Linked DNA regions of Homo sapiens: region 2 is linked to region 1. A link means that fine-mapping ties the variant in region 1 to the expression of a gene that starts in the linked region. Tissue or cell type: iPS cells. Region 1 holds a variant in brackets; the other region holds the start of a gene. All regions are shown on one strand. Distances are from middle to middle.

The links. PIP is the estimated chance that this variant, and not a neighbour inherited with it, causes the effect.
Region 2: it holds the start of C22orf42, and the variant in region 1 is the best candidate, but not a certain one, in a credible set for the expression of C22orf42 in iPS cells (HipSci, PIP 0.79).

What each region holds. Positions count from the first base shown.
Region 1 is chr22:32,007,528-32,011,796 of GRCh38, reverse strand. The region is part of intron 4 of LINC02558 (long intergenic non-protein coding RNA 2558); the gene reads right to left. Among named protein-coding and RNA genes, the nearest start is that of SLC5A1, 34 kb to the left of the region's middle. The variant T/C (reference allele first, on the strand shown) is at 2,206.
Region 2 is chr22:32,157,209-32,161,477 of GRCh38, reverse strand. C22orf42 (chromosome 22 open reading frame 42) reads left to right here and starts at 2,175. Exons shown (of 9, transcript NM_001010859.3): 1 at 2,175-2,494. The coding sequence starts at 2,263.

The DNA.
Region 1 (4,269 bases):
GAAATGTACACAACGTTCCACCCAACCGCAATAGAATACGCATTCTTCTGAAGTGCACAAAGAACATTCTTCAGGATAGAGCACATGCTAGGTCATAAGAAAAGTTTTAACAAATTTAAGAAGATTGAAATCATATCAAATATGTATCTTTTCTGGCCAGAGAGGTATGAAACTAGAAATCAATAACAGAATTTCAGAAAATTCACAAACACATGGAAATTAAATAATATGTTTCTGAACAACCAATGGCTCAAAAAAAGGGGGAAACTTTGAGGCAAATGCAAATGGAAACACAGCATACCAAAATTTATAGGATATGACAAAAGCAGTTCCTTTTTTTTTTTTTTTTGAGATGGAGTTTCACTCTTGTTGCCCAGGCTGGAGTGCAATAGCACAATCTCGACTCACTGCAACCTCCACCTGCCAGGTTCAAGTGATTCTCCTGCCTCAGTCTCCCGAGTAGCTGGGATTACAGGCATATGCCACCATGCCCGGCTAATTTTGTATTTTTTTTTTTTTTTAGTAGAGATGGGGTTTCTCCATGTTGGTCAGGATGGTCTCGAACTCCCGACCTCAGGTGATCCACCCGCTTCAGCCTCCCAAAGTGCTGGGATTACAGGTATGAACCACCACACCCAGCCTTCTTTTTCTTTTTAGTTTTTGTTTGTTGGTTGGTTGGTTGGTTGATTGGAGACAGGGTCTCACTCCGCTAACCAGGCTGTGCAGTGGCATGGTTTCAGCTCACTGCAGCCTCAACTTCCCTAGCTCAAGTGATCCTCCCACCTCAGCCTCCCGAGTAGCTAGGACTACAGGTGTATGTCACCACACCTGGCTCATTTTTTTAAATTTTTTGTAGAGATGAGTTCTCACTATGTTGCTCAGGCTGGCCTTGAACTCCTGGGTTCAAACAATCCTCCCGCTTCAGCCTCCCAAGGTGCTGGGAGCCTTGGGCCCGGCCCACAATTTTAATAGATGATGTAATTGACTATCCTATTTCAAGTTCTGTGAGATTTCAAACAGTTACAAGTAATTTTGTTTCCTTGCAGTGCTTCTAAGATCATGGCAGTGTGTTACACTAGAAAGGGCGGGGCTCAAAATCCTAACCCTAACTTTATAGGTATGGACTTTCCACAACTTTTCTGCTACACCCTAGGTTCCCTCTTTTAAGTTCTTTTTAAAAGAGGCACAATAGAGGCAATAATCTGGTTATTGCAATCAGACTCTATTACAAGACTCTAGGAATCCTAAACTCCTCTTTCCCCTTAGATGACATTGCTTTCATTCAATCCTTTTATGATGTTTGGTATATGTATATGTAAAGTACTGTTATATGTGCAGTGGGGTCATGAAAAGTTGAGTCTTGGCCTTCAGGTTGCTCATAATACCTTCTGGGAAGCCTTCCAGCAAAAAAGAGTGTAACACTCCTCTGACCCATGGGAGGACCTCTTCACCCCCTTTTCTTCCCACCTTCACCTTAGCTGGTATGACCTGGTGTTCTCCAATTGCCTCTCTTCACATCTCTATGCCGTTGCTCATCTCTCCCTCATTCAATTTCAGCCTTCAGAAATCCTACCCACCCTTCAAGGCTCAGTTCCAAGCTGCCCCCTCCAAGAAATTTTCCTGGAACTTCCCAGGTCCATTATTCTCTCTCTTTGTCTCTGTTTTCATCTGTTCTGACATTATCACACTCCTTGTATTGTACTTATTTGTGTGCGCGTTTTAGTTTAGATCTCTGCCCTTTTTAACAATTAATTCCACTGTATAGCTTTAATTAACATTCTGCTTTTGAACCTTTCTTTCTCCCTCTCTGGAGGTAACTATCATCTTGAAGTTACCAGTTATCATCCCTATGGTCATTTTATACTTCATTTCCACATATGTTTGCACCCATGAACCTTCTATTTCTGTCTTTGTCTATCCATAAAACACATACACACATTGATAAAGTTTTTGGTGCTTTATTTATGTATTTATGGAGATAGAGTCTCACTCTGTTGCCCAGGTTGGAGTGCAGTGGCACTATCTTGGCTCACTCCAACCTCCGCCTCCCGGGTTCAAGCAATTCTCATGCCTCAGCCTCCCTAGTAGCTGGGACTACAGGTGCACGCCATGCCCAGCTAGTTTTTGTATTTTTAGTAGAGACAGAGTTTCACCACAGTGGCCAGGCTGGTCTTGAACTCCTGGCCTCAAGTGATCTGCCTGCCT[T/C]GGCCTCCCAAAATGCTGGGATTACAGGCATGAGCCACTGTGTTCACCCAGTTTTTGGTGCTTTAAAAATGCATATAAGTGCAAGCACATGACACTATACTGTTTTGTTTACTATGGCTTTATAGTGTCAGTCCTCTTCATCTTCAATATTATGTTGGCTATTATAGGTTTTTTGTCTGCATATAAAATTTAAAATCAGTTTCTTGATAGCCCAAAATAACTTGCTGGGGTTTTGATTGAGATTGCATTGAATCTATAGATCAAGCTTAGAAGAATTGGACAACTTGACAATATTGGGTCTTTCTATTTATTTAGTTCTTCTTTCTTCAGAGTTTTGTCCTTTTCCTCATACAGTTCTTGGTACATAATTTGTTAGATTTATACCTAAGTATTTCATTTTGGGGTGCTAATATAAATTGGTATTATGTGTTTAATTTTAAATTTTACTTGTTTTCTGGTATATAAGAAAGTGATTGACTTTTGTATATTAACCTTGTATTCTGTAACCTTGTTGTAATAGCTTATTATTTCCTCCAGCACCATCTGTTGAAGAGGTGTAAAAGGCTATCTTTCCTCCTTTTGCACCATTGTCAAAAATCAATTGGGCATATTTATGTGGGCCTATTTTCAGGTTGTCTGTTATGTTCCATTAATCTCTATACTATACCTCTGCCAGTACCACACTCCCTTGATTACTTAGCTATATAGTTAGGCCTTCATATCAGGTAGAGTGTTTCTTCCCACTTTGTTCTCTTTTAAGACTGGTTTTTTGTTTGGTTTGGTTTTAGCTATTCTAGGGTCTGTGTCTATAAATTTTTGAATGAGGTTATTTTTGTCTATATAAAATGTTGGAGGAAGTGCATTAAATCTATAGGTAATGTTGAATTTGGGAGAATTGACATCTTTTTTATGTTGAATTTTTTTTTTTTTTTTTTTTTTTTTGAGACACAGTTTCGCTCTTGTTGCCCGGGCTGGAGTGCAATGGCATGATCTCAGCTCACCGCAACCTCCGCCTCCCAGGTTCAAGCGATTCTCCTGCCTCGGCCTCCCAAGTAGCTGGGATTACAGGCATGTACCACCACGCCTGGCAAATTTTGTATTTTTAGTAGAGACGGGGGTTTCTCCATGTTGGTCAGGCTGGTCTCGAACTCCTGACCTCAGGTGATCCCCCCGCCTCAGCCTCCCAATGTGCTGGGATTACAGGCGTGAGCCACCGCGCCTGGCTAATGTTGAATTTTCTAGATATTATAATATACATACCATACTTTTCACAGTCTGTTTTATTTTAGTAAAGGATAGAAAACTTACCTCCATATAGATTCATCTACTCTCTTTCCTTTATGTTATAGGTGTAATCTGCATTAAATATATACACATTGCAACTCCCTAGACAATTTATAATTTTACATATACATATATATTTTATATATATACAAAAGTCATATATACCAATTTTTTTGAGACGAAGTCTTGCTCTGTTGTCCAGGTGTCACGCCTGTAATCCCAGCAATATGGCGAAACCCCATTTCTACTAAAAATACAAAAAATTATCCGAGTGTGGTGGCACACGTCTGTAATCCCAGCTACTCAGAGTCTGAGACATGAGAATCACTTGAACCCAGGAGGCGGAACCCACTTGAACCCAGGAGGTTGCAGTGAGCCAAGCATCTGTCTGTTGGCAAATTTCTGTAACTTTTCCGTAGCTTGAGCATATATTTATTTCACCTTCTTCCTGAATAATATTTTTACTGGATATAAAATTGTGGGTTGTCTGGGCCTGGTGGCTTATGCCTGTAATGTCAGCACTTTGGAAAGCTGAGGCAGGAGGATCGCTTGAGACCAGGAGTTTGAGACCAGCCTGGGCAACATAGTGAGACCCCATCTTTATTTAAAAAAATCTGAGTTAGTGGTTCCTTTTTTTCATCCATTTAAAATGTTATTCTAGCTGGGTGCGGTGGCTCATGCCTGTAATCCCAGCACTTTGGGAGGCCAAGGCGGGCAGATCATTGAGGACAGGAGTTTGAGACAGCCTGGCCAACATGGTGAAACCCTGTCTCTACTAGT
Region 2 (4,269 bases), 150 kb before region 1:
CCTACTGACCAGGCCCTGTGCTAGGTGAGGCCATTACAGAAATGAGAAGCAGACACCACCTCCATTCCGATGAGTCTCACCAGATCAGCCATTGCTGATGAACACTCAGGTGCCCTGACTCTCACTTTTCACTTTTGCAGGCTTTACTTCATGCCACATACATTTCCCTATTCCCCAAGCCTCCTTTCTCTCCAACCCCTCCCCTTATTAGACACAGCTTTTTAAAGCAGTCACGGTCTTACCCATGGCTTCAATTGTTTTCTATATGCTGTTATGACAATAGAATTTAAATGTTGTTCTTATATAACAGTTTTATTTTACGTGACACCTCATTCGCTACAACCATAAATTCAAAGTTTCCCTAAGAAAGTAATCACTAAAAAACTATTATATTCTTAGTATGTAAATGTTAGGAAATTTCCTTAATGGTTTGAGTTACTGTGTGTGTGTTACTTTTGAAAACATGAGTTGGGATGTCACAGAATGGACTTAGCCTACAGAGGTTTACATCCAATTTTCAACCAGACGGTTCCATTTCAATGTGACATTTAAAGAGTTCAAAACTGTCTCATTCCCCACACCTCTTTCTCGTCCTACATTCTCTGTCTAGGGGAGAATCACTGCTATTTACACAGTCCATCAAACTAGGGCCTTAGCAGCCTGTTTTTCCTTCCCCTCTTCTTCCACGTCTAATCACCAAGCACTTCCTGTTCTATCTCCCAAATGATCACAAAACTTTTCCTTCCACTTCAGTCACTGCTGCTGCCTTTTTAGCCTTACTGTTCTCCAGATGAACATAGAGTATCTTAATCAGCCCCACTGCTTTCATAAAGCCCTCTCCACTGCGCAGAGTGACGTCACTGCAAGCACATCGGATAGAGACTCCTCACCCCTGTGTGGTTCAGTGACTCTCGTTTCCAGAATAAAATTCAAACTCTACCCCAGCATCTAATTTTGGGTCAGATAGATCTGCATTTTCATTCCAGGTTGATTCACTGTCCAGCAGTGTAGCCTCAGATAATTGAACCCTCTAAGCCTTTGTTTGCTCATCTGCCTGAACTCACTGAGGGTTGGGACTGTTTCACACATGCAGTATTGGCACTTAGACTTAATGTTGAATGAAGGGGAGGCATTTTAAAATTCACATCAAAAAACTGTTATTCTTTAAAAAAAATACTAATCTACAAGGTCACTTCCCCTCCAAGCATGACGTCTACCTTTACTTTCTGATAATCATGATCGGCTTGTGGGGATCAAGATTACTCAGGATTAAATTCTGGCCCCATCTTGAGCCGTCATGGAAACTTGGGGAAGCTACTTAACTTCTCCATCTAGATTGATTCTGCAAAATCCGTAAAATGGAATGGTTTCTGGGGGTTAAATTAGTATACCACTGTTGGAATACTGTCAGGCTTGCCAGATATTTACTGTTCATCTTCATCAAATGAGGACAGTGGTATCCCACTATATGGTTTTCAATTTTGTGTAAGAAAAACGTGCTTTATGCATTGTTAGTAAAAGAAATATCTGAATATCCCTGCCATGGAAGAAAGAAACAGAGGGAGAAAAGAGAGTTGGTAGGTCCTAGCATTTCAGAACTGGGAAGGATGAGTTCAGTCCCTATTTTATAGACAATGAAGGGAAAGTGTGATGTGTCCTAGGGTTTCATTCAAGTCGCAGTCATCACGCTTTATCGAGAGTGGGACCAGGGCTCTAGGAGTTGCTGTGGTCAAGTTGAAGACAAAAAGTAACACTTGTAAGACAGGAGAGAAGCATTTACTTACAAAGCAGTCCGAAATTTGTGTATAACTACATTTGGTGAGCAAACGAAAGCTGCCAGACTCAGAAAAACAGAGATGCTAATGGAACTGACTTTAGTAACCAGGGTTTTCTATTGAGTTCATTGCCCAGGGTGACTTCCAATAACAACCTCCAACCCCTGCACTTTTCTCAGGACTGGAAAGCTCAGGCAGCCCAGGATGAATAATGCAGTCACCACAGAGGGACAGGGTGGCCACAAGGTGGGCAGCAGCAGGGATGGGCATTGTGAGGCATTTGGTGGGTCTGTGGGGTCGGCCATTGTGAGCCACTAGCCTGACTTGGTTGTTTCCTGGCAACCAGGTGACATAGGAGGTTTTGTGGTTACTAGGCAACGGCCAGGGCCAGCAGCCTTCAGTCGGTAGCTGGCCGTAGAAGGAGGAGGAGCTCCGACTACATTCTGTCCTTGTGCCTCTTGGACTTTTTTGTGTGTTTAGGTGCCCAATGGGGAGCAAACTGACTTGCTGCCTGGGCCCCAGCGGGGGCCTCAACTGTGACTGCTGCAGGCCAGATGTGGGACCCTGCCATGAGTGTGAGATTCCTGAGACTGTGGCAGCCACAGCACCAGCATCCACCACTGCAAAGCCTGCCAAATTGGATTTGAAAGCTAAGAAGGCCCAACTCATGCAGTACCTCAGCCTCCCGAAGACGCCGAAGATGCTGAAGATGTCCAAAGGTAAAGAAGCCATGGGTGCCATTTGCTCTCTGGCATCTCTCTGGCCACCACCGCCCCCACCCCTTTGCAGTCCCTCACCCTCAGAGACATCCTCAGCTTCCAGCTCCCTCCTGCCCATAGCCGGCTTTCCCAGGGCTAGGCATGGGGGACAAAGGCTGGTTCTGCCTCTTGTCTTTGTTGTTGAGCCTTCTTTGTTGAGGACTTTTTGGTCTAGTCCCGGCCCTTTTCTCAGTAAAATTTCAAATACTCCAGTTTTGGAGTCCCCATCCCATTCTCTATCCTTACCCATCCAGCTGGTCTGGTACCTAAGTGAAGGAGCCAGTTAAGGGCCCAATTGTTTCTTTTCTCCCATTCCTTAAGGTAGCTAATAATTGGGATAATTTAGACTCAAATATGTGGAGACTTCTTAAATTCAAAATAGAGTTTGCCATGGAAGAGATTATATGGTATTCTTAATAGATGGTTTTAAGTCACATTGACAGAAGCTGCTTTACTTCTTCCAATTGTAATTTGAAGAAAGAAGGAAAAAAAATTGGGGGACATGCTTCAAATGACTGCAAAAGGTATGAAATGTTAGTGCCAGAGCTGTAAAGAAATTGCTTTTGTGTTGGTTTTACCCAAAGAGTTTAGTCATGGAGCTCTGATTACTTTAAAATTCCCAATTTGACATGAGTGTCTCTTCAGCCCTACTACAGTGTAGTCCCTATATTGTAGACAAGGAAGGGAAAGTGTGATGTGTCCTAGGGTTTCATTCAAGTCGCAGTCATCACGCTTTATCGAGAGTGGGACCAGGGCTCTAGGAGTTGCTGTGGTCAAGTTGAAGACAAAAACTAACACTTGTAAGACAGGAGAGAAGCATTTACTTACAAAGCAGTCCGAAATTTGTGTATAACTACATTTGGTGAGCAAACGAAAGCTGCCAGACTCAGAAAAACAGAGATGCTAATGGAACTGACTTTAGTAACCAGGGTTTTCTATTGATTTCATTGCCCAGGGTGACTTCCAATAACAACCCCCGCCCCCCTGCACTTTTCTCAGGACTGGAAAGCTCAGGCAGCCCAGGACGAATAGTGCAGTCACCACAGAGGGACAGGGTGGCCACAAGGTGGGCAGCAGCAGGGAGGTGTGAGCCATTGGGTGGGTCTGTGGGGTCGGCCATTGTGAGCCACTAGCCTGACTTGGTTGTTTCCTGGTAACCAGGTGACATAGGAGGCTTTGTGGGTACTAGCCATTGGGCAGGGCCAGCAGCCTTCAGTAGCTGGTAGTGGAAGGAGGAGCTCTGACTACACTCTCACGACTGTTTTTTGCCTCTTGGTTCTTGTTATGTCCCTTTCTTTTTGAAATAAGACGGAAGGTCCCCACCTTCATAGACATAGAGATCCCATCTTATTTGTTTTTTAAAATAAATTGAAAAGTGAGGCGGAGCCTTGTGAGGATGATGGGAGAGGGCTTCCAGAGAGGAATTTCTTCTTTGGAATTCCTGAAATGGGAACAAACTTGTTTTGGGAAAAGGACAGAAAGACACAAAGGTGGCTGCAGCAGAGTGAAATGAATATGATGGGCTAAGGCCTTGTACACGTAGTGAGCATTGACAAAGAATATGGACTTTAGTTGAGATGGGAAACCACTGGAGGATTACAGCCTGGGGATTACTGTTAATCCTCCAAGAAGAAGACTGACCAGCGGCTGTGTGAGAATGTCCTGTAATGCAGGCAAGGGTGGAAGCAGGGAGACCAGCTAGGAGGCTGGTGGCGAAGTGCAGGTGAGAGTCAACA